Linked DNA regions of Homo sapiens. The protein of the gene in region 1 purifies or fractionates together with the protein of each later gene. This does not show direct contact. Each region holds a gene or a part of one and is shown in the gene's direction. Other genes may lie near its edges.

Region 1 (7,033 bases):
AAGGTGTAGAAGTGGGCCTGCATTCCAACCTACCATTGTCTTCAAGTGGGGTATGGATCATTATGACTGGTTAGAGGGGGTTTGGAGAATGAAGTTGTTGCTGTAAGCCTATGGGATTCCCAGGCACAGAGCTTGCTTATGTCTTAATTTTAATGAGTTCTATATTTTTATAACTCTTGACTTATATAAATGGGTCAGCCGTTGAGTCTGAGGATGACCAGCAGCCCAAGGCTATTCCAGGTGCTGGTATTTCTTTTTTTTTTTTTTTCTCTTTCTGTTTTTTTTTTTTTTTTTTTTTTTTTTAATTATACTTTAAGTTTTAGGGTACATGTGCACATTGTGCAGGTTAGTTACATATGTATACATGTGCCATGCTGGGAATTGAACAATGAGATCACATGGACACAGGAAGGGGAATATCACACTCTGGGGACTGTGGTGGGGAGGGGGGAGGGGGGAGGGATAGCATTGGGAGATATACCTAATGCTAGATGATGAGTTAGTGGGTGCAGCGCACCAGGTGCTGGTATTTCAAAGATGGCTCAGGGGTTTCTTGTGGAGATGATCTGATGAGCATTTTGCCATTACAAACAGTGGAGGCGGAGAAAGTACGGACTTGAGCCTGAGTTATGGTAAAACATACTCATTTTTAAAGGAGAGTTTTAATGCTGATATTATAGAGAAAGACATTGTTTGACTCCTAGACTTTCAGAACGGGAAATAATTTTGACTTTATAGTCAGTATTTGAATTGGGTATAAGTATGTGAACATCAGTGGACCCTAATAAGGAAGAGTTAATGAATTAAGAAGAGCTTGCATCTCTGAACATCTTCTTTTTATACTTCGTTTACTTCCCATATTGCTCTTATTCAACAGATGGGATGGCATAATTGGGTATACGAAGTTTATGCGCATGCTAACTCTTTTTTGTTATCTTTTGGTGTTTTTTGGTGTACTTTTTGGGGATTTTCCTGGGAAAGTTCTAGGCATATATTCAGTTGATTTAGAGTTAGATTTGGGCTAAGATTATTAGTATACTTGAAATTCTGAGCCTTCTTATTTTCTAAATAGCTTTTAAAGTAGAAAACATTTGCCAGTGCTGTTGGGCTTAAAAAAAAAAAAAACCCAACAACAACACAATTCTTTATAAATACTCATGAAAAATCTGGTTACAGGCTGTGTTGTGATAGACATAGTACAGCCAAAAATATATTTAAGAAAATTCTCACCCAGTTTAGTAAGCTTAAATAAGAGGAAAATAAGACAGTTTTTTTTTTTAATAAAAGGCTGATTTTCCCAGAATATGAAGCCTAACAACTGTTTGCTGTGTTATTTTCCCTGTTGCCTGTTCTAAATTCAGCAAGAACTATGCATCCCTAGTCCATGGTAAAAGCTTAGTTCCAGTAGGTGATTCTTAGTAATGGAAGTCTCATTGAGGGATGCAAGGGAATTTGATTGGGAAACATCAGGCATGGAACATTTACTTTTTACTGCTCTAATTTTCTGTGTATCTGGGTATTCAGTGGGGTGGGAACATGAGCACAAATACTAGAATTATCTGGATTTTTTTTTTATACTATGGATTTCCTCCTCTTACCCCCTACCTGCCCCCCAACCCATTGCTAAGTGAGCCATTGATAGTAGGAGTGTGTTATATCCTTCAGGTATGTAGGGCTGAACAAATGCTAAAAACCTTGGCACTTGGCTGATATTCCATAAACCAAATTCCTGCTCTGTGTAATTTGCCTTCTGGTGATATCAGTTTGTTACTCCCATTTTTGAAGAAAAATATGAATTGTGGTGAAGAGACATCTGTAACCAAGAGTAAGATTTATCAAATTATGTAGTATACATGAAGGACACCAGGAGATTGTTTACCTGAACATTTATTAAACTCATTTGACTGTGACCCACAATAAAAAATACATTTTACTACTTGATTCCGCAAGCGCACACACACACAAAGTTGAAAGTTTGGTGAAATAATATTTATCTTTTCAGGGCCCTACTGAGTTAGCTATAATGGCTTGCAAGACCAGTTGTGCATATTTCTTCCTATCTAGCTCTTTGTCCAGTGACATCATGTTGGTAGCTCAAAATTGGTCATGGTGGGAATATTTACACCAGGAAATTCAGCAAATGGTATTCTTAGGGCTTCCCTCCTCATAGGTAGTTGTTAAACATTTATAGCACCCCACTGCTTATAACACACATTGATATATTCTGTTATTTCATTTCATTTTAAAAATGCTGGGTTTTGACTTCCAAATTAATTTTACACCCAGCTAATGGATTATAGCCTACATTTAACAACAAATACAACTAGTTTAGCCTACCCTCTTAACTTTGTAAGTGAAGGAACATACTAAGAGCCTCAAGGCCAAGGTCAGATAGTGAGTTATTAGCAAAGCCAGGGCTCTGGACTCAATCTGGAGTTGTTTCTGGTGGGCTTCTTTCCTAACCTCACTTAGTGTGTATAAGGGATTGTGTTAATCAGTTTGAATAAAGATGGACCTTGACCCTGAGGACTTTATGCTTAGGTGGGGGATTAAATATGGAAACAACAGTGATAATGAAAGGCAGAAAGTAATGGGTGGTAAAAAGATAAAGATAAGGAACTATAAGAGTTTAGAGAGGAGGGAGAGATTACTTTTATTTTTGTTTGTTTGTTTGTTTTTCGTTTTTGACCCAGGCTGGAGTACAGTGGTACAATCTCGGCTCACTGCAACCTCTGCCTCCCAGGTTCAAGTGATTCTCCTGCGTCAGCCTCCCTGAGTAGCTGGGATTACAGGCGCCAACTGCCACACCAGGCTAATTTTTGTATTTTTAGTACAGACGGGGTTTCGCCATGTTGGCCCGGCTGGTTTTGAACTTCTGACCTCAGGTGATCCATCCGCCTCAGCCTCCCAAAGTGCTGGGATTACAGGCGTGAGCCACCGTGCCCGGTCTACTTTTAGTTTTAAGGATAAAAGAAGAGGTGACATTTGAACTACTTTTTTTTTTTTTTTTAATTTGGAGACAGCATCTCACTCCCGTTACTCAAACTGAGTGCTGTGGTGCCATCACAGCTCACTGCATCCTTGATTTCCTGGCCTCTAACAGTTCTTCTGCCTCAGCCCCCAAGTGGCTGGGACTATATAGGCACACACCAACATGCTTGGCTAATTTTTCATTACTTGTAGAGACGGGGTCTCATTATGTTGCCCAGGCTGTTCTTGAACTTCTGGACTGAAACTGTCCTCCTGCCTCGGCCTCCCAAAGTGCTGGGATTACAGTTGTGAGCCACCACGCCCGGCCCCTGAACTATGCTTTGAAGAATGGGTAGGATTTGGACATGTGGAAATAGGACAACTAGTATGAGAGAAAGGCCTTTCTGGGCCAGGGGCCAGGGTGATCAAAGGCATACAAGCATAGACAGGGAAAAATGAGTAGTGAAAGAGCTAGGCAAGAAAGAGTCCGTTAGCACCAGATGGTTAAGAGCCTAGAATGCCAGTTTTCCTTTCTGCTTTTCAGTTTATCTTTCATTTTTGACTCTGGAGTAATCTAGTACTTCTTAACATTGAACAGGATTTATATGTTATGATTAAAATATGATCCAGAGAGCACATAAGTATCCTTAGAGTAGAAGCTGAAGGGAAAAATTATTAGTGTTAGAGAAGCAACCTTGAGTTTACCAATCCTAAAAGTGTTGGAAAGTGAAAAATATTTTATTTGTAAGGAGAGACAGTGTTTTTTTTTTGTTTGTTTTTTGTTTTTCTTCATTAGCGTCAAATTGGCTGTAGTAGAACAGGAAGCAGTTTTGAAAGTCTTTACAAGGGCCTTCTAAAATGTGATTTCTAAATGACTGGATCTTAATTTTTGGAGGCAGGTTTAGTTCAGGCAGAAGGGTAGTTTATACAGATCTGCAGCTAAGCTGAGTAGCTTTTAGAATTTAGGGCAGCAAAGCAGGGTATTTTATACAAAATCCACTTGTAAGGAATTGATGGCTTCTTTATTCCAAGAATTTTCTTAGATTTCAGCATTTATGTCTTTGACAGCCTGTATGACTGAAGATGTTTTGAAGTCTTGGATGGAACTTGCCTTGTTTCACAGGGGAATTGGGTAGCTAGAAATGAAGGTATAAATGCCAGTAAGTTGTGTCTGTTAATCAAGTTGAAGTACTGGTGGCAGTTCTCAAGCTTTTCTGTCTGCTGATGATTTCACACTTACTGCTTCTAATTAAATAGTGTGTAGTCGATTTGAAGAAGCCTTGCTTCTCTTTGACCCACCAGTTCTGTAAAGGTAAAAGCCTTCTTAGAGTGTTGCCCAGGTAACAACACATACAGAGACTGCTTAATAGCTCATCATGGAAGTGTGTGGAAAATTTTGGAAATGTTGGTAAAGAAGTTGCTATAGTAAATAACTACTTGGTTGGTAAAAAGCTGGGCTACTTCTGGATAGTTGATAAAGAGTTTTTGAGATGAGCCGTGGTTCTAAAATAAATATGAATTGTGTCATTGCCACACGATTTTCTTCAGTTATGTAAGCTCCTAATATGTAAATGTTGTCCTACCATTTTAGAAGGTGTCAGCAGTTTCATGTGACCTGTTCCACAATATAGCACACCCCAAACACCACGATAAGAGTTCAAATATGGCATGGCCCAGATGCCTCACACCAGTTAAATGATAAAGCTAATCATGTCAGCACAGTGTTTCTGTTAAAGTTTTTTCCCCCTCTTTTTTGAGGCATGTTAGTTTTCACGAATTGAGGTTATTAGAATCTTTCCAGATTTTCTGCCACCATTTTTTTTGTGTGTGTGGTAAAAAGTATAATGATGGTGCCCTTAATTAAATTATGTAAACATTTGTAAAGATATACACGCATACACATAGTGTGCATATATGTATGTGTAGACATACATACATATATATTTACATATCATTAGTTCTTGGAATTTGTGGTGAAAATACACCCACCTGGCAAATGGTTGAAAACAAGTGTTCTAGCTCTTTGAAGACTACCATGTGAGTATTCACAAATATGAAAGTAATGCAAACCCAAAGGGAGTTTTTGTATGCCCAATTTCAAGAAAGGAGCACATTTTAAAAGGCAAGTATGGAATTCATTCATATACCAGTGAGGAATTTCTCAACTTCTCCTTTACCCCACACATACACCCGTTTACCATTCTCATTATTAGCAGTAAGCAAAATTAGAAGACTTTAAGAATCAGACTTCTACTACAAGTGATGCAAATAAATATTATTTTTAGAAAAAATACAAACCTGTGGTTTTGAGTTATGAAGGTTTAAGAGACACATATCACTAGTTTTTTTTATAAACTACATGGAGTGTTTTCTGTGCTTCAAGATGTCGTAATTGTCATTGTGAGGCCTTTTGCTGAGAGCATTGTATAAAGGAATAGTTGTTAGAATGGTTATTAGGTGTTTCTTTGAATAGTTTATTTTTCTGTAGTCAATTTATCTTGCATACATTGATGGCCGGGGGTGGTGGCCCACACCTGTAATCCCAGCACTTTAGGAGGCCAAGGCAGGCAGATCACTTGAGGCTAGGAGTTTGAGCCTAGCCTGGCCAAGATGGTGAAACCCCACCTCTGCTAAAAATACAAAAATTAGCCGAATGTGGTGGTGTGTGCCTGTAGTCCCAGCTACTTGGGAGGCTGAGGCACAAGAATCCCTTGAACCTGGGAGATGGAGGTTGCAGTGAGCCAAGATCGTGCCACTGCACTCCAGCCTGAGCTACAGAGTGAGACTCGGTCTCAAAAAAAAAAAAAAAAAAAAAAAAAATTGAATAGAGTATACTACTTTAGTGAAAAATTGACCATTGAAAAATCAACCATTGAAGGGAGGTTATATATATATTGGCAGACAGTAGGGTTTCTGAAGTTGTTTTAGAATAATTTTGTTATTGAGCAGCTGTTTTATCACCAGACCTCATTCATTTATTATTGCTTTTTTCCATTTTTTTTTAAATCTCATGAACTGTATTCTTTCATTTTAAATCTCTCATATTTGCCCTGAAGTCAGTGGTCATATTTGGACTAATGTTTTGATTTGCTGTTGTCTGCGCAAAGATCTATTACCAAGTTGCATGATCAAGTTGGTATTGAATGGTAATTCAGTTAATGTCTTCTTCTCTCCATTCCTTTTTTCCTTCTGTATTCTAGAAGTTACCTTAACACTAGTGTGAGATTCCTGGCAAAGTTAATGGGGAAATGAAATTAAATATTACTGTTATTCAAATCCTAGGGTGACCTTTTTGCCAACACTAATGAACATAGAAAATTTTTCAGCATGAATTATGCAGCTTAAATTTTCACTGAGGCTAGGCCTCTTAAGTTTAAAAAATTAAAAGTTAAAAAAATATTTATGGGGTACAAGTGCAGATTTCTTACATGTATAGATTCTTACATGTATAGATGTGGTGAAGTCTGGGCTTTTAGTATACCCATCACCTGAATATCCACCATTCTGTATGTCCATGTGTACCCATTGTTTAGCTGTCACATATAAGTGAGAACATGCGGCATTTGACTTTCTGTTTCTGAGTTATTTTACATATGATAATGTAGGCCTCTTAAGTTAAAAAACATTCTGACATGCATTTTATAGTTCTTGTCAACATTATCAATAGCTTTGATAGATGAAACAGGTTTCTCCTGTTGCAGTTGGTATCACACACAATAAATTAGCCATCCCTACCATTTGAAAATATAAAGGTGTTTTTTTTTTTTGACACGGAGTCTTGCTCTGTCGCCCAGGCTGGAGTGCAGTGGCATGATCTTGGCTCACTGCAGCCTCTGACCTCTGCCTCCCAGGTTCAAGCAATTCTCCTGCCTCAGCCTCCTGAGTAGCTGGGACCACAGGCACGTGCCATCATGTCTGGTTAATTGTTGTATTTTTAGTAGTATTTTCACTATGTTGGCCAGGCTGGTCTCAAACTCCTGAACTCGTGATCTGCCAGCCTTGGCCTCCCAAAGTGCTGGGATTACAGGCGTGAGTGACTGTGCCTGGCCCAGATAAAGTTTTT
Region 2 (6,899 bases), on another chromosome or scaffold:
TTCAATTTATTGCAGACATATCTTTAAAAAAAAGTCAGTCCTAATATTGAAGCTATAATACAGATTTTAAAATTATTGTCATTATACTGTAAACCACAATGAAGAACATCTTATTTATTTATTGAGACAGCGTCTCACTCTGTCACCCAGGCTGGAGTGCAGTGGCGCAACCTCAGCTCATTGCAACCTCTGACTCCTGGGTTCAAGTGATTCTTGTGCCTTAGCCTCCTGAGTAGCTGGGATTACAGGCACCCTCCACCACGCTCAGCTCATTGTTTTGTATTTTTAGTAGAGACAGGGTTTCACCATGTTGGCCAGGCTGATTTTGAACTCCTGACCTCAGGTGATTCTCCCTCCTTGGCCTCCCAAAGTGTTGGGATTACAGGTGTGAGCCACCGCGCCAAGCCAGAACATCTTATTTAAATGAAAAGGGATTAATATTTCACCAGGCAATAAATGTAGCAGTTTCTTTTCTCTCCATATCTACAACCAATGGTGATATTTTATAAGCTAATTCTAAAGAGAAGCATTTTTTTTTAAATGATAAAAGCCACGTTTTGCTCAGAACTACTACTGTTCACATACCACATAAGTTGTTTTACAGCAAATACCAGTTTGCCAGGCTCCAGATGGCAAAATGCTAAGTTGTGAGTTCAGTATTGTCCAGCTAGTTGTTTTTCTGAGATCCGGCAGCATGTACTGTTGAGAGAGGACACTGTGTTGCCGCCACTTCTCATAGCTGTCTACTATGGTAGACCATTCATGTCTTTAAAATGCAAGTCTTAGCAAAAAGCCTCCCACAAATTCAGTGGATATCACAATGTTCTGTTTGATAAAGTCAGTTGCTTCTTCAACTGTATTGTTGATTTCAGGTGCTGCTTTATTTGCTCATTTCTTAGTCTGTCTTTTTTTTTTTTTTTCTTTTTTGAGATGCAGTCTTGCTCTGTCATCAGGCTGGATTGCAGTGGCGTGATCTCGGCTCATTGCAACTTCTGCCTCCTGGGTTCAAGCGATTCGCCTGCCTCAGCCTCCCAAGTAGCTGGGATTACAGGCGCCCACCACCACGCCCAGCTAATTTTTGTAGTTTCAGTAGAGATGGAGTTTCACCATGCTGGCCAGGATGGTCTCGATCTCCTGACTTGGTGATCCACACGCCTCGGCCTCCCAAAGTGCTGGGATTACAGACATGAGCCACCACGCCCGGGCCTTAGTATGTCTTTTTGCTTTATGTACGTCTCTTTCAATTCTCTTCCAGTCAATCTGGAAGTCACTGCAGTTGCTGCAACCTTCCCAACTTTTGGGAGCAAAAATCCTGCATACCAGCCTGTCACGCCACACATTCCAATCTGGGTAGCTACTGAGTATTTCTCTGTAACACCATAGGTCTCCAACTGGGGCCAAACACTCAATTCCACCGCTGATGTCTTCTTGCATACTCAGTTAAATCCAACACTTCATAAGAGTCGTCATCACTTTCATATTCTTGGGGGCTGGGGTTAGAGGTCACCATGATACCACAGGTGGCCTGTTTTGGGGTGGTCCTGCCTGCCCTCCTCTTCCTGGCACTTTCAGAAAATAAGTAACAGAAAAATACTGAGAAGAAAATAATAATCTTATTAAGCAAATGGGCTTGTCACCGGTGGAGGATGTCCAGGTTCTTGGCATCTTGAACAAAGAATTGGACAAAACGCACAAACAAAGCAAGGAAGGAATGAAGGGATTTATTGAAAACGAAATTACATTCCACAGTGTGGGAGCGGCCCGAACATAGGGGCTCAAAGGCCCCGTTACAGAATTTTTGGAAGTTTAAATATCCCCTAGATGATTCCATTGTTTACTTCACTTACCCTCTACGTAAATGCAGAGGATGAAGTAAAGTTACAAAGTCACTTACAGCATACGCCCTATGGAGTGGATATTTCCTGTTACAGCCGAAGTGTGAATTGGCCTTATGTTCCCTGCCTCCTGACCCTATTTTCCTGCCTCAGGCTCACTGCTCAATGTACACGGAAGCAATACCATGGTACTGCCTTTGAGAAAAGAAAGACTTTATTGCAAGACCAGCCAGCAAGGAGACAGGAGGCAGGTTCAAATCTTCCTCCCTGATTTGGGGTCTGGGGCAAGTTCTAAGGAAGCAGAGGGCAAAGGAAAGGACTTAGAAATGTTGGCTGGGCAGGATCTGTTTGAAGGCCTTCAAATTTGGCCATTTATGGTACGGTATGTTGAGGTGGATTTTAGCCCCTATCTTCTGGGCCAAGAGACCCTTCCCTTCTGAGAGTTCGAATGTTCGGGTTCCAGTCATGTCCCAGTCTTCTTCGTTCCAAGGAGACGAATAGTTGGTTCTGGATGTTTGTTAGAGATCAAATCTTTTTCTATGGTGCATGCCTGGGCTTTGTGACTTAAGAGTTTTTGGCTCTGTTATACCTGCAAGGTAACTCAACATTGTTACAAACAGAGTAAGCCCCGTTTGGGCTGGTACTGTGGTTACAACGGCACTTATTCCCACCACCTAGAGTCAAGAGCTGCTGGCACACTGGCTGTTTACTTCCAGTTCCCACGGCCCCTATTCCCCTATACAAAATTACACAGGAAACATATGCGTTCATTTAATTAGCAAGTGTATATAAAAACATCATAGACAAAGCAAAAGTCTCTCTTGACACTCTCCATCTTGACCTGTTCACCGCCCCAGACCAGGTGAGGAAATTTGAAGCTATGCTATCTGCAAGTCACTGGCGCAGTCGGAATAAAAGTTGGTCGTGGTGGGGGCGGGGGGGGGGTGGTCATCTGGGTCGGGACTGAGTCGAGGCAGGTGGGACTGAGTGGTAGGGACCTGGGGGGACATCTGGGTCGGGTCTGAGTCCAGACAGGCCACCTGCCTTGGGCCTCTAACATTTCCGCGCAGCGCTGGGCTTTGAGGCTTTCCAGAGCGCTGCCGGGGCGGGGGCGGGGTGAGGTGAGGGGCTCACCCTGGCTCTCCCACCCCTGCCTACGGGCTGTGAGGTCACTCGATTCATTTCTGGAACTAACTTGTAATTCTCAAACAAGTGCTATTAATTCTCTTCCAACTAGGAACGGCCTCAGTAACGCGCCGCTGAGTCAGTTTTCAGGGCGGGCGGTTTCCCCAAGTCCACTCCTGAGGCCCCTCAAGAGCACCCACCGCGTCCAGCTTCCCAGGGCGCTCCTTCCCAGGAGACCTTCTTTTCGCCACTGTTTTCTCCCCTCTTCCCACTTCTCCGAGGGCTGCCCCGCGGTCTGTCCGGCCGTGTCCCAGGCCTTGGCGCGGCTGAGGCATGACCGGAATGCGCGGGAGGACGCGGGGCACGGAGGGGACCTGAGGCACGGAGGGAACCCGGGGCGGGCCGGACTGGCCTGGGCCCTCGTCGGGGCGGTGCTCGACCCGGCCCGCGCCCCCCGCCCCGACACTCGCAGCCCCGCCTCCGGACCCCGGGTAGTTGCCATCCCCTCGCGGGCCGGGTGGGGCGCGCAGCTCCTAGCCCTGGGAGGTCCCGAGGATCGCGAAACGGAAAGAGAAAAAAGTCTGCGCCGAGCGCCTGGCAAGCAGGGCCCGCCCCGCCTCCCTTCCCGGCTGGTCCAGTCACCGACCTGCGGCTCCGGGGCCGCGAGGGAGGAGGCGCGGGGGGCGCGAGGCGGGGGCGAGCGCTTGGGACTCGGCCCGGCTCCCGGCTCCGGGGGTTCTCGTGGCCGCGGCAGCGCGGTCTCTGCGGAGGCGGCGGGGGCGCGGCCAGCCGGACCTCTTCCTTTCCAGAGCGGCCCGCGGCGCCCGTTCCGCGGGAGGCGGGCGGGAGGCGGACGCGGCCTAACCTCGACGTCGACTACCGCGCCGCCCGCGATGGGAAGCGCCTTATAAAGCCGCGCCCGGCCGGCCCGAGCCACTCGCCGCCGCGCCGCCCCGCTGCCCCGAACGCGGGCCATACGCAGCCTCCTTGGAGTGACGGGCCGACCCCGGACGACCCCGGCCACGGACAGACCCGGGACGACCCCGGCCGGGGCGCGCCTCCTGCGGGCGGGCGGGCGGCGGGGCTGGGGAGCCCTTGGCGGGGGCATGCGTGCGACATGGCCTCGGCGGTGTTTGAGGGCACGTCGCTCGTGAACATGTTCGTGCGCGGCTGCTGGGTGAACGGCATCCGCAGGCTCATCGTCAGCCGGCGCGGCGACGAAGAGGAGTTCTTCGAGATCCGCACGGAGTGGTCGGACCGCAGCGTGCTCTACCTGCACCGCAGCCTGGCGGACCTGGGCCGCCTGTGGCAGCGCCTGCGCGACGCCTTTCCCGAGGACCGGTCCGAACTGGCGCAGGGGCCGCTGCGGCAAGGTGCGGGGCCGGGGACGCGGGAGGGGCGCGGGGCCGAGGCAGCCTTGAAGTGCACGAAGGAGGCGGGGAAGAGACTTCAACCGAGATTGCGACTTCTCCTTTCTGCCCGCCCTGGACAGGGGACACTTGGACCCCGCGCCCGCAGACGAGGGGTGCCCGGGCGGCGGGGTTAGGGGGACGGGGAGCCAGCCTGCCCAGCCTGGGGGCGCCCCCGGCGGAGGAGCCAAATGGGGCGGGAAAGGGGCCGAGGCCGGCAGGGCGGGCGCCGGACTCTCCCTGAGGACGAGTCACTTCCGAGGAGGGCGGGGGCGCCCGGGGCTGAGCGGCTCACAGGGTCGGCCCGGCCCTAGCCCCCTGCCCGGTACCTCCCGAGGGCCGGCGGGCGGGCGCACTGGGAAAGCGTCTGGGAGCAGTTAACTGCAGGGTCCGAGCCGGGGGTCGCGTCGGGTCTGGCCGCCGCCCCGAGTTCTCCCCGCGGAGGGCGCGCCCCTGGTCTTCGAGCGCGAGGTGCCACGCAGCCCTTCCGTCCCTCCTCGGAGCGGCCGCCCCGCCCGCGGCTGCCGCGGACAGCCAGGGCCCCCCCGCACCCCCGCCAGGGCTGGTCCCCATTCGCGTTTGATCAGCTGCGCCGCCTCCTCCCCGGCCTCGTGACCGTCCTGGCTCGCGGGAATTCTTGTTTTCAGAAACCGCGGTGGCTTCCCTTTTCCTACCGCTCTGCCCGATCTTTCTTTTGGAGGCCAGGCTGAGGGGGTGGAAGCCGGGAGGACGCAAGAGAGAGGGACTGGAATTGAGACGGGAAGAATTGCGGGGTGGAGGGGGCAGGCCGAGGAGAGGGGCCGCCTGGGAGGGCCGGGAGGGGAGAAGGGGCGGGAAGACTGGAGGACTTCCGAGCAGGTCCCACCCCCCTCCATGGGTGACCACCTGTAGCTCGGAACATTGGGACAGTGGCCCAGCAGCCTTCTTTTCTGCAGTCCTCCTCTAAGCAGAGACCTCCTGAAAGCTTGGGGCCAAGTTACTGAAGCAGAAGGTGGCCCGTCCAAGTCTCCCCAGCCTCCTATCTGGCTGCGTTCTTGAGATAACCTGTGCTTTCCCCTGGCGATGGCCCCAACCCCAGTGTGAGAATTACGTGGATAATTAGCTTAGTTCTCATGACACATCTTTTGGAAGGGCTCCCACAGCCAGCGAGTTGGGGCCCTGAGCGAGAAGGCCCGCCTTTCAGGCCTCCCTCTGCTCCCCAGAGCCTCACATTTATAGCTGTTCTCCAGACAGTTGGGTGTTATTTCAAGCATGGAAGCAGTTTTCCTTGGATTTGCTGTTTGTTATGATATTTTAAATTTAACAAATCAATGCCCAAATCAGGAAAGCATCGTGAAGGAACAGCGGTTTATTCAATGACCTTTCCTGGAACGAGGCTTAAATACACTGGAGTCCCTGAGCTTCACTGTGGTCAGGCGTCTGAGCTCCGTGACCCCAGGCAGGCTGGTTGGAGCGGGATCCCCGTGGGGCTCCCCACCTGTAACTTTGTGCTTGTGGTCTCTGACGTTTGTGAGGACTGAAAGGCATGGTAGAGGGTCTAACAAGAGCAGGTTCTCCATAAATGCCAGTTGTCATTGTTACCGTCCCATCAGCTGCTTCTGGCTGGGGTTGGGCCAGACGGTGGAAAGAGGGCGTGGTTTCAGTTGCATCCACGCTGGTGGAAATACCTCACCTGGAGCAGGAGGGAGGGGCGTGCCCTGCACACACCCTGGCTCCGCCTCTTTTGCTGTCGCCCTAGTTGTGCTGGGTCTGTTACGCGGTCACAAGCTGTGTGGACACGCAGGAGTGGCTCAAAAGAGTGAAGAAAGGTTGAAGACGCGAGCGATTACCGTGGAGAAAAGGCTCAGAAGGGATATGATAGCTACCTCCAAGTACCTCAAGGGGAACAGAAATCAGAAATAGGGGTCAGAATGATGGTGGCAGGGCTGGTGGGCGGTGAGTGTGAGGTCCAGCGGCTGGGTGTAAAGGACTTTCTCACAGCACACCGTGGAACTGTTGGAGCTGCTCTCTCTGCTGGGGACAGTCTGGCACACCCTGGAGGGGGTGAAGAGGGGAGCCTGGGACCAGAACCGGGACCATAAGCCCTGCCTTCATTCTAGTCCTTGGTTTTCTGAGGGGCAGTTAGTTGGTCCCTGCCCAGCACCACCTGAGTTTTGTTGTGCAGCGCCAGGGAAGTCCTTTCCCTTTCTTTGATCCTTTTAAGTCCAGGGAAATTGTTTGCCAAGTAAAATATATCCCAGTAATGTAAAAGCAGATTGCACCTTATTTCCATGCAGATTTATTGTTTGCATAAAAAGATTATCTGGATATACAAACTATAAACACAAAAGGCAGCCAGATGTGTGTGCTTTGCTGTGCTGCAATGCCGGCTTTTCTCTGCATCATTCCCTATCACATTCCCCAGTTTACATGGATTGAACTGTTTCTGGGACGGGTTAGATTTGCATTCTCTAGTTCCATTTAAGAGATTTGTGAGGAAATCTGGATTTCTGAGCTTCTGCTGGCAGTGGGCTGGTGACTCTTGGAAGTG
Region 3 (4,796 bases), on another chromosome or scaffold:
TTGTGACCTGTGTTTATTTGTAACCTCTGTAATTTTATCACATTTATATATATACTGAGTATTTCACAATAATCAACATTTTGATGAAAAATTGAGTGAAGGAACATAATATTTTAAAGCAGTCTTAAGAAGTACTATCATGTCTCTATTGTTGCTATTATGGAAGTTAGATTACTTCATAACAACATGAATTGACATTCTAGCTGAGTAACCTGTCTTAGGAAATTGACAACAGAAACTTGTGAGGTCAAGTTACACAGAAAGATGGTTAGGTGAATAGAAGTGCTAGCCACAGAAGTATACACTATACAGGAAGAGTATATTCACTGTGAGATGACCCAGGAAGAAAAACTGTTAGTTAATATAATTAGGTCAGCTGGTCCATTGGGTAGAATAATATGTTATCCAGGCAGTTGAAAAAATAGATCATCAATAACTAGATCATCAGTAGGAATAGGAGAGGAACAGACAGGAAAACAAATACTACTTTTGTCAAAGACCCTTATATTTGAAGCAGCTTCCTGCCTCTGTATTGAGGTTACACTAATGAAAACACCAGACTAGACTGAAATATGTGGGAGCAAGGCAGTTACTGACAGTTGATACCTTAATACTTATTCCCATTATTTTTCTGTTTGACATAGGTGATGCTCATGCTTTTGATGAGGAGTGGCAAAGTGAGGTTTTGAAGTACAAACCAGGACGACACAATCTAGGAAACACTAGAATGAGAAGTGTTGGCCATGAGAATCCTGGCTCCCGAGAACTTAAAAGAAGGTAAAAGTTGTTTCTAAAATAGTTTGGTTTTTTAAGAAGAATTTGAAGTAAAGTTATGTAATTTACTTCTGTTATCAGAAAGTTTTGATGATCATCCAAATTGTATCCACAGTATCTTTTGTGAAAGATGTAATAATTTTATATGAAAGCTGATTATTCCACACAAATTTAAATTTATATCTAAAAATCAATAATAGTTTAGGATTTTATGGTTAGTAATTCACTAGTAAACTATGCCTCAGAAGACAGAGACCAAAATCCTCTTAAGGAAAACTGATATCCTGTAGTGTAGTTATTCTTGTAAAACACATTGTAATATGGATATAGATAGAGTCATACATTTCACACTGGTAAAGATATCTAGAGATATGATAAGGGGAGAGGGGCTCTATTTGGAAGACTTAACAACTTTCTTAACAAATCAAAATTTAGCATTTAATAGTAAATTTCAGACACTTGTATAATATGTAACAGTACATGCAATACCATATTCGATGTGTATTAGATATTTTGGAAGAATTTTGCAAGAACATTAGCTTCTTTTAGAATTCCCTTTTAGAATAGCTGAGAAAAATAAATTTGCTGAAACCACATATTAAAGATTATAGAGATTTCTGTCTGGACATGGTGGCTCATACCTGTAATCCCAGCACTTCCGGAGGCCGAGGCAGGTGGATCAGTTGCGGTCAGGAGTTCGATACCAGCCTGGCCAACATGGTGAAACCCCGTCTCTACTAAAAATACAAAAATTAGCTAGGTGTGGTAGCACACACCCTGTAATCCCAGCTACTTGGGAGGCTAAGGCAGGAGAATTGCTTGAACCTGGGAGGCAGAGGTTGTGGTGAGCCAAAATCACACCACTGCACTACAGCCTGAGTGACAGAGCAAGACTCCATCTCAAAAATAAATAAATAAATATTATAGAGTTTTTAAATACATTTTGTACATACTCTGGAGCTACAGTTTAATGTGGTTCTCAGAGGAATAAATGGATAATAATATCTAATTCCTATGAAGTTACACTCAAAGGCCTCACCAGACCTTAAATAGAAATCTGTTCTAAGCTATAAGAAAGTGGAAAATTGCTACAGAAGGTGGAAGCCTTCACAGAACTAGCAGTGGACAAGTGAGTATCAAGTAAATCAGAAGCCTTATGCAGAATTTCATATGCTAGGATCTTTTCTTCTAAAATACTTGTTTAGGAATTTAGAGCCCTAGTATTTTCTATTGAATTGCTTGAAAACTTGCTCCCATATTCATTATAGATATTTGTCTCATTTGAAAAATGTATTGATTAAAAACCTGGCAGTGCCAAGTTTGAATAGGAAATCCAGGTCGCACTTAGAGAAGGCATGCTCTTTATGGATGACCTATAAATTTCTGGCCCTAACAGTGGCATTTTCTCTTAACCGGCACTGTCCAATGGCATTTTCTGAAATGACTTCGGTAATGACAAAAATGCTATATATCTATTCTGTCCAGTGTAGTAATCACTAGCCACATGTGGCTGTTGATTCACATTTGAAGCATTGCTGGTACAACTGAAGAACTGAATTATTTTATTTTAATTCAAATATAAATGTGGTTAGTGACTACCATACTGTTAACATTAAACAGTGTTTAAACTATAAACAGTTAAATCTAACAGGAAAACAGCTGTTGCTGTCTTAAATTCACTGAAATAGTCTGCCTTATTTTCTGGTTTTTTTTGTTTTTTATTTTTTGTTTTAGGGCAGGGGGTACAGAGTCTGGCTCTGTCGCCAGGCTGGAGTGCAGTGGCGCGATCTCAACTCACTGCAACCTCCACCTCCCAGGTTCAGGCAATCCTCCTGCTTCAGCCTCCTGAGTAGCTGGGACTACAGGCGCGCATCACCACGCCCAGCTAATCTTTGTATTTTTAGTAGAGATGGGGTTTCATCATGTTGGCCAGGATGGTCTCGATCTCTTAACTTGTGATCTGCCTGCCTCAGCCTCCCAAAGTGCCGGGATTACAGGCATGAGCCACCGCACCTGGCCAGCCTTGTTTTTCAAAGCCATTAAGGAATTTTTAAGATAAAACTTTTCTTATATTACAGTGGTTTTTAACATGTTTGTATTGATTTATAAACCATTGGCCATTTTTTAAATGATATTAATATTCACATGTATATTTCTCAGGGAGAAACCTCAACAAAGTCCAGCCATTGAACATGGAAGGAGATCAAATGTTTTGGGGGACAAACTCCACATCAAAGGCTCATCTGTGAAAAGCAACAAAAAATAAATAGCCATGCATTTGATTTGTTTAGTTTTGATTGTTTTAACAGTTAGTAATGGTGCTGGGTAATAAGCATAAGACCAATCTCTTGCTGTTAAATCAGTTCTGTCCTTGGCAACTTTCTTCTGATATCTGAATGTTCATGAAGGTCCTAGCTTTATATTGTCCCTCTTTTAGGAATAAAATTTTGATTTTCAACAATGTGAGTAAATTGAGTCTATTTAATGTAAAACTCTTTAAAACATACTAATTTTTTAAAGCTTATATGCTTATTTCGCTTCCCCAGTTGTTTTTGTGTTGGCTAAATATTCTTTTATATTTATCAAGATTGATTGCAGAGCAGTTCTATCACTTATAATTAGTTATAAGAAATTATAATGTTAAAAAAGTCTCAGTTTTTACTAACACTGTACTAGGGTGATATTAATAAAGGTTTAAATAATTTATCTCTAATTTTATAATGTGTTGTAAAGCCAACTAGCTTAAAACTTTAAAAATAATAAAGCAAAACTACACTAGTACTCTTTTATGAGAAAATAGTTACTATTTTGATAAAGGGCAAGGATAATCAAATAGTTCATTTTCAGAGAAAAATATTTTAAATTGCTAATGTACATGATTGTTTTGGTTATAATTTATTTATAGAATGTATCTTTTCTATATTACATTCTTAATATTCACCAGATATTATATTGACCATTCTCTTTAACTTCTTAATGTGGCATATTTCTACTCTCCTTTCCCACAAACAGCTTCATCTGTCTCCAAGGTTAACATTCTGAAGCTGGAGAGTCCTTGGAGAAACTCTGCTCAGCTTTTTTGTGACATTTAGAAAAATGCATTTGGTATTCTCCAAACCAGAATGATACATTGTCTCAAAATCTGTTAGACAGCTGATGGGTGTTTTTGAGCAACGTCTTAATAATTCAGTTGTTTCTGTTTTAATTATACCATTAAAAATCAGCTTTAGCTTTTTAATTCTAGAATTTAAGCATCAGTCTGTTCTTATAAAAGTTAGGTTTGAAGTTTATAAGAATATAAAATCTTAACTCACATTTGTTGTTTAATATTTCTGTCAAGGAAAAAAGCCCCCAAAAATTGCTATCACTCTATAATCCTAAGTATTTTTCTTTTCAATTTTGTAAGTAAAATTATATGACTATGTTCATACTTCTCTAATTTTTTATATAATATTTTTGTTAATTTTACTAGTTTGTGTTTTATGCCTTTAGTCATTAAAATAAAATGCAAATGTGTTAATTCATTGTTGAAATTGAGCATGTATTAGTTAAAAATTTCCTTTTAGGCATACTTTAGTATACTCCTAACATACCATAACACATTGGGAAATTGTCATAAGGCACACATTTTAAATAACATCTTGATATAAATTAACCTGATAGAGCAAAGTCTTAATAAAGTACATACTTGATTTTCCTTTTGCCTAAATCATTACACTGATGATAACTTGAATCATTGTAGTCAAATCTAAAAACACCCTTTAATAAATAATTGTGTTTAACAGTATAATTCCTGTACATCAGATTGCAGTTAGAGATTGTGGTGAGGCAGAATTTGAGATGGTAGTACCGAGAAAAGTTCTGTTTCTTTCTTAAAAGTCAACTCTATCTTTGCACCATAAAAACATAACTATCGATATCTATACCCCAGAATAATATTTGTTTGCAACAACTTCTTATGATGGGTGTTTAATACTGTTAGTCTGTAAATTGAAACTATTTAAAACTATATACATGCCGGG
Region 4 (7,416 bases), on another chromosome or scaffold:
ATTTAGTGATTTGCATGTGTTGAACCATCCTTGCATCCTTGGGATAAATCACACTTGATCATGATGAACGATCTTTTTAATATGGTGTTGAATTTGGTTTGCTAGTATTTTGCTGAGGAGTTTGCATCTATGTTCCTCAGGGATACTGGTCTGTAATTTTCTTTTCTTCTAGTGTCTTTGTCTGGTTTTGGTGTCAGGGTAATTCTGGTTCTGTAAAATGACTTTGGAAGTGTTTCTTTCTCTTCAATGTATTGGTAGAATTTGAAAAGGATTGATATTCATTCCTCTTTAAATGTTTGGTAAAATTCAGCAGTGGATCCACCAGGTCTGGAGATTTTCTTTGATGAGAGACTTTTATCACTGATTTAGTCTCCTTTCCCATTACATATCTGTTTAGATTTTCTATTTCTTCAAGCTTAAGTCTTGGTAGGTTTTATGTGTCTAGGAATGTATCCATTTCTTCTAGGTTATCCAATTTCCTGGCATATAATTGTTCTTAGTATTCTCTTAAAATCTTTTGCTTTTCTGTGGTATTAATTGTAATGTCTCCTCTTTCATTTCTGATTTTGAGTCTTCTCTTGTTTTTTCTTAGTTGATCTAGCTAAGGGCTTGTCAATCTTATTTATCTTTTCATAAAACCAACTCTTGGTTTCACTGATTTTTTTCCTATTGTTTCTCTAATCTCTACTTCATTTACTTCTGCTCTGATCTTTATTATTTCCTTTTTTCTACTAATTTTGAGCTTATTTGTTCTTTTTTTTCCAGTTCCTTGAAGTGTGATGTTAGATTGTTTGGGATCTTTTTTCTTTTTGATGTATGTATTTATTGCTATAAACTTCGTTCTTAGAAGTGCTTTTGCTGCATTCTATAAGTTTTAGTATGTTGTATATACATTTTCGCTTGTCTCAAGATATTTTAAATTTTCCCTTTAATTTCTTCCTTGACGTATTGGTTATTCTGGAATATGTTTTTTGATTTCCATATATTTATGAATGTTCCACAATTCTTATCATTAATGATTTCTAGTTCCATACCACTGTGCATATATTACTTGATGTGATTTCAATATTCTTAAATTTGTTAAGACTTGTTTTTGTCTGTCACTTTGAAAAAATTCAACAACCTTCATGCTAAAAACTCTCAATAAATTAGGTATTGATGGGATGTATCAAAATAATAAGAGCTATCTATGACAAACCCACAGCCAATATCATACTGAATGGGCAAAAACTGGAAGCATTCCCTTTGAAAACTGGCACAAGACAGGGATGCCCTCTCTCACCACTCCTATTCAACATAGTGTTGGAAGTTCTGGCCAGGGCAATTAGGCAGGAGAAGGAAATAAAGGGTATTCAATTAGGAAAAGAGGAAGTCAAATTGTCCCTGTTTGCAGATGACATGACTGTATATCTAGAAAACCCCATTGTCTCAGCTCAAAATCTCCTTAAGCTGATAAGCAACTTCAGCAAAGTCTCAGGATACAAAATCAATGTACAAAAATCACAAGCATTCTTATACACCAATAACAGACAAACAGAGAGCCAAATCATGAGTGAACTCCTATTCACAATTGCTTCAAAGAGAATAAAATACCTAGGAATCCAACTTACAAGGGATGTGAAGGACCTCTTCAAGGAGAACTACAAACCACTGCTCAATGAAATAAAAGAGGATACAAAGAAATGGAAGAACATTCCATGCTCATGGCTAGGAAGAATCAATATCGTGAAAATGGCCATACTGCCCAAGGTAATTTATAGATTCAATGTCATCCCCATCAAGCTACCAATGACTTTCTTCACAGAATTGGAAAAACTACTTTAAAGTTCATATGGAACCAAAAAAGAGCCCGCATCACCAAGTCAATCCTAAGCCAAAAGAACAAAGCTGGGGGCATCTCGCTACCTGACTTCAAACTATACTACAAGGCTAGAGTAACCAAAACAGCATGGTACTAGTACCAAAACAGAGATACAGATCAATGGAACAGAACAGAGCCCTCAGAAATAATGCCGCATATCTACAACTATCTGATCTTTGACAAACCTGAGAAAAACAAGCAATGGGGAAAGGATTCCCTATTTAATAAACGGTGCTGGGAAAACTGGCTAGCCATATGTAGAAAGCTGAAACTGGATCCCTTCCTTACACCTTATACAAAAATTAATTCAAGATGGATGAAAGACTTAAACGTTAGACCTAAAACCATAAAAACCCTAGAAGAAAACCTAGGCATTACCATTCAGGACATAGGCATGGGCAAGGACTTCATGTCTAAAACACCAAAAGCAATGGCAACAAAAGCCAAAATTGACAAGTGGGATCTAATTTAACTCAAGAGCTTCTGCACAGCAAAAGAAACTACCATCAGAGTGAACAGGCAACTTACAGACTGGGAGAAAATTTTTGCAACCTACTCATCAGACAAAGGGCTAACATCCAGAATCTACAATGAACTCAAACAAATTGACAAGAAAAAAACAAACAACCCCATCAAAAAGTAGGTGAAGGACATGAATAGACACTTCTCAAAAGAAGACATTTATGCAGCCAAAAAACACATGAAAAAATGCTCACCATCACTGGCCGTCAGAGAAAGGCAAATCAAAACCACAATGAGATACCATCTCACACCAGTTAGAGTGGCAATCATTAAAAAGTCAGGAAACAACAGGTGCTGGAGAGGATGTGGAGAAATAGGAACACTTTTACACTGTTGGTGGGACTGGAAACTAGTTCAACCATTGTGGAAGTCAGTGTGGTGATTCCTCAGGGATCTAGAACTAGAAATACCATTTGACCCAGGCATCCTATTACTGGGTATACACCCAAAGGACTATAAATCATGCTGCTATAAAGACACACGCACACATATGTTTATTGCGGCATTATTCACAATAGCAGAGACTTGGAACCAACCCGAATGTCCAACAACGATAGACTGGATTAAGAAAATGTGGCACATATACACCATGGAATACTATGCAGCCATAAAAATGATGAGTTCATGTCCTTTGTAGGGTCATGGATGAAATTGGAAATCATCATTCTCAGTAAACTACTGCAAGGACAAAAAACCAAACACCGCATATTCTCACTCATAGGTGGGAATTGAACAATGAGAACACATGGACACAGGAAGGGGAACATCACACTCTGGGGACTGTTGTGGGGTGGGGGGAGGGGGGAGGGATAGCATTAGGAGATATACCTAATGCTAAATGACGAGTTAATGGGTGCAGCACCCCAGCATGGCACATGTATACATATGTAACTAACCTGCACATTGTGCACATGTACCCTAAAACTTAAAGTAGAATAATAATAAAATAAAATAAAAAAGACTTGTTTTTGGCCTAACTTATGATCTATCCTGGAGAATTTTCTATGTGTGCTTGAGAATATTATATATTCTATTGGATAAAATATTCCGTAGGTCCTTTTTGTCTAAAGTGTATTTCAAGTTCAATGTTTCCCTATCGATTTTCTGTCTGGATGATCTGTGAATTGTTGAAGATGGGGTCTTGAAGTCTCCTACCATTATTGTATTGCAGTCTACTTCTCCCTTCAGATCTATTAATATTTGTTTTATATATTTAGGTGCTTCTATGTTGGGTGCATATATTAAATATGTTTATAATTATTCGATATTCACGATGAATTTATCTCATTATCATTATATAATGACCTTTAAGATCTTTTATGGTTTTTGACTTTAAGTCTATTTTATTTGACATATGTGTAGTTATCCTTGCTCTCTTTTGAATGATTGATGGAATAGATAAATGTCATGAATTGTTTTCTGCATGGGGGCACAGTGCACCATGTCACAAGAGACAGTCTAAGTACAAACTGATATTGTTAAAACATCAATATAGTCATTGTGGGATCAATAAAAACTTTTCATAGATTTTTATACATTACTGTTTTTATTCTGAATTGCATAAGATGGACGGGCACCCTATCTTTTAGTGTTTAGAACCTCTAAATGTTTTAATGTGGTAACACTTGAAAAACAGAAATGAATATGACCTAGTCCCCTGCTCCAGAGCAGCTCTAGGGAAGAGAGACATAGACACAAGGTATAACAACACTATGTAAATAGTGTTGGGATAGAGGGTCTGTAGGAAGGGTTGGTGTGGGAGTTCAGAGAACTACATTCCTCCTAGGGGAAACAGGAGAATCAAATAGGAACGGAGATACAGAGTGGGGAATAGAGAAGTCAAATGGAGAATAAGAGGGAGTGATAACTGAATAGGGGTAGTAAGAAGAAAAAGGGAGCTACATTGAGGAGAATGGAAAGTTGAAAGTAGGTATGGAGGGGAGGAGACTGACAGGCAGGAACGGAGACCCCCCTCTGGAGGCGGAAAGAGGCAGGACCACTTCCGGCCAGGGAGGGGGATAGGCTCAGACACAAGGAGAGGCTTGGAGAGAGCAGACGCCTTCTGGATTCAAGAAGACGAGGTGAGCTGAGGTACCTGGCTTTAGTGAAGACCCTGTGGGGGCTTCCTGGCTGCGGCTTCGACGTGCCTGACTCCACACGCCCCTAAGGTTTGAAGAAAACCTGCTGGAGGTTTGGGACCTAACCGCATCAAAGTCGCCTTTAGCGGTGCCTGGACCCAGTTCGCACGGGAGGAAGTAGGAGGCAGAATCCCCTTTGGGCCACAGAAAGTAACGATCTGGACTCGGTTCGGGCCGTGAAAGGGAGGGATGCAGACCTAGTTGGGACCGCAGAAAGGAAGGATCGAGAAATCCTTCAGACGGTAGCAAGAGGGGAGGAGGATACACACAGTTCGGGAGGGAGATAGGAGACGGCAGGACTCCGTTTAGGCTGGAGAAAGGGGGCAGTACCCCGTTTGGGCCACAGAATGGAGGGATCGGGACCCAGAGATAAGAGTGGGCAGCATCCCTTTTGAGCAACGGAAAGGACCAGACTCAGACAGGAGAAAGGAGGGGATATGACCCGGTTGGTTCCGGTTTGAAAGGGAAGAGACAGGACCTGGTAGGGTTTGAGAACAGGAATACACAGAAGGTTCATACAGTTGGATTTGGGGGTGAGGTATTCATGTTGCAGAAAGGGCGGAGCTGCACACTTGCAGACGTGGAAAGAGGGGGGAGTGGTGTTGGTTGGGGAAGGGGTGGTGCAGAGACGTACCGCAGAGCGGAGGGAGGGGGCTTATTAAAGGAAGGGAAGATGAAGAGAAATGCTGCAGAGCGGAGGGAGGGGGGTGTATTGGGAAGGGGCGGTGCGTGGCAGTACCGCAGAGGAGAGATGGGCGGTGTTGGGGTAGGGGCGGTGCGGAGTGGTACTGCAGAGCGGAGGGAGGGGGCTAGTGTTGGGGGAAGGGTTGGATCGAGATGTGATGCAGTTAGAAAGAGTGGGTCGGGGTGGCGCCAAGATGTTCTGTTGCTCTGAGAGCAGGGGGCAGATGTGGGATTGAGCTGGTTAGAAACTGTCCGGTTTACCAAGGCGCATGCGCGCGGAGGGCATTGAAGAATGGTTCTTTTGGGATAGAGGTGGGCCTAAGATGGGGGGTGGGGGCGCCTCTAGTCGGTGCGCATGCGCACTATCGAGTTGCGGAGGGGGCGTGTAAAGGGGTGGGGTCGTAGAACTGACTCTCTCGGAGGCAAAAGGAGCTGGGCCTTGGAAACCAGATGGCCTGGGTTTTTTAGGTATGAAAACCCAGGAGTTGAAGGGATTAGGGCCCAAGGTTACATGAGACTCCCCTAAGTCAGGATAGGTGAGATGTCTGATGAATCTCCCCCTCCCTCTCATTCTCTAACTCAGGCCCATTCCCCTCAGGCTCACCTGTTACTCGGCCTCCCAGAAAGATGGATAGGAGAAATGACTACGGATATAGGGTGCCTCTATTTCAGGTGAGGCCTCTCTGCATTCTCTCTAGGCCATCTGCCCCATCCTGAGTTCACTTACTGCTCTTCAGACCCCTTCCACCGTGTAGTTTCATAATTCCCTGCCTAACTCGTCTCAGTCCTCCCTTACATGGTGAAGGAGAGGAGAGGAAAACCTGCCTGACTCTATTCCTTCCTTGCTCCCTACCCCATTTTAATTAACCACTGCTCAGAGGAAGGGAAGGCCTTTGTGGAAAGGGATGGGCTTTAGCGAGGCCAAATGGCCCAGAGGATGGTAATCCTAAGTGTGTAGGGCCCTCTGCCTCCCCCGGGGAGCCTGGGGCTTCCCTTCCCTCCAGATATACAGACTGAGACCACAGAAGAGGACAGTGTCCTGCTGATGCATACCCTGTTGGCGGCAACCAAGGACTCCCTGGCCATGGACCCACCAGTTGTCAACCGGCCTAAGAAAAGCAAGACCAAGAAGGCCCCTATAAAGACTATTACTAAGGCTGCACCTGCTGCCCCTCCAGTCCCAGCTGCCAATGAGATTGCCACCAACAAGCCCAAAATAACTTGGCAGGCTTTAAACCTGCCAGTCATTACCCAGATCAGCCAGGCTTTACCTACCACTGAGGTAACCAATACTCAGGCTTCTTCAGTCACTGCTCAGCCTAAGAAAGCCAACAAGATGAAGAGAGTTACTGCCAAGGCAGCCCAAGGCTCCCAATCCCCAACTGGCCATGAGGGTGGCACTATACAGCTGAAGTCACCCTTGCAGGTCCTAAAGCTACCAGTCATCTCACAGAATATTCACGCTCCAATTGCCAATGAGTCAGCCAGTTCCCAAGCCTTGATAACCTCTATCAAGCCTAAGAAAGCTTCCAAGGCTAAGAAGGCTGCAAATAAGGCCATAGCTAGTGCCACCGAGGTCTCGCTGGCTGCAACTGCCACCCATACAGCTACCACCCAAGGCCAAATTACCAATGAGACAGCCAGTATCCACACCACAGCAGCCTCCATCCGAACCAAGAAAGCCTCCAAAGCCAGGAAGACAATTGCTAAGGTCATAAATACTGACACTGAGCATATAGAGGCTCTAAATGTCACTGACGCAGCTACCAGGCAGATTGAGGCCTCAGTAGTGGCTATCAGGCCCAAAAAATCCAAGGGCAAGAAGGCTGCCAGCAGGGGCCCAAATTCTGTCTCTGAGATCTCTGAGGCCCCACTTGCCACTCAGATAGTCACAAACCAAGCCCTGGCAGCCACCCTGCGGGTCAAGAGAGGGTCTAGGGCTCGGAAGGCTGCCACTAAGGCTCGGGCAACTGAAAGCCAGACTCCAAATGCTGACCAAGGGGCCCAGGCCAAGATAGCCTCTGCTCAGACCAACGTAAGTGCCCTTGAGACTCAGGTTGCTGCTGCTGTCCAGGCCCTGGCAGATGACTATCTGGCTCAGTTGAGCCTGGAGCCCACAACCAGGACCCGGGGCAAAAGAAACCGAAAGGTGAGATCTCTGACATTGCCATCCTTAACTTTGTGCTTCTTTTCCATTTCTACCCTTCTAGT

What was found.
Region 2: the proteins of RABGAP1L (region 1) and PXDC1 purify together in Homo sapiens (affinity purification with mass spectrometry; 2 studies listed by BioGRID and IntAct, with this or other methods). This does not show direct contact.
Region 3: the proteins of RABGAP1L (region 1) and MLF1 purify together in Homo sapiens (affinity purification with mass spectrometry; 2 studies listed by BioGRID and IntAct, with this or other methods). This does not show direct contact.
Region 4: the proteins of RABGAP1L (region 1) and TRO purify together in Homo sapiens (affinity purification with mass spectrometry; 2 studies listed by BioGRID and IntAct, with this or other methods). This does not show direct contact.

The regions. Positions count from the first base shown.
Region 1 is NC_000001.11:174,162,501-174,169,533, forward strand, and holds part of RABGAP1L (rab GTPase-activating protein 1-like), read left to right. Parts: intron 1-7,033. UniProt on the Homo sapiens protein: GTP-hydrolysis activating protein (GAP) for small GTPase RAB22A, converting active RAB22A-GTP to the inactive form RAB22A-GDP. Plays a role in endocytosis and intracellular protein transport.
Region 2 is NC_000006.12:3,748,710-3,755,608, reverse strand, and holds the start of PXDC1 (PX domain-containing protein 1), read left to right. Parts: upstream 1-3,895; 5' UTR 3,896-4,077; coding exon 4,078-4,333; intron 4,334-6,899.
Region 3 is NC_000003.12:158,602,163-158,606,958, forward strand, and holds the end of MLF1 (myeloid leukemia factor 1), read left to right. Parts: intron 1-644; coding exon 645-777; intron 778-2,934; coding exon 2,935-3,040; 3' UTR 3,041-3,786; coding exon of another isoform or gene 3,787-3,808; 3' UTR 3,809-4,294; downstream 4,295-4,796. UniProt on the Homo sapiens protein: Involved in lineage commitment of primary hemopoietic progenitors by restricting erythroid formation and enhancing myeloid formation.
Region 4 is NC_000023.11:54,916,415-54,923,830, forward strand, and holds the start of TRO (trophinin), read left to right. Parts: upstream 1-4,409; 5' UTR 4,410-4,464; exon of another isoform or gene 4,465-4,551; intron 4,552-4,573; exon of another isoform or gene 4,574-5,054; intron 5,055-5,788; 5' UTR 5,789-5,832; coding exon 5,833-5,877; intron 5,878-6,163; coding exon 6,164-7,354; intron 7,355-7,416. UniProt on the Homo sapiens protein: Could be involved with bystin and tastin in a cell adhesion molecule complex that mediates an initial attachment of the blastocyst to uterine epithelial cells at the time of the embryo implantation. Directly responsible for homophilic cell adhesion.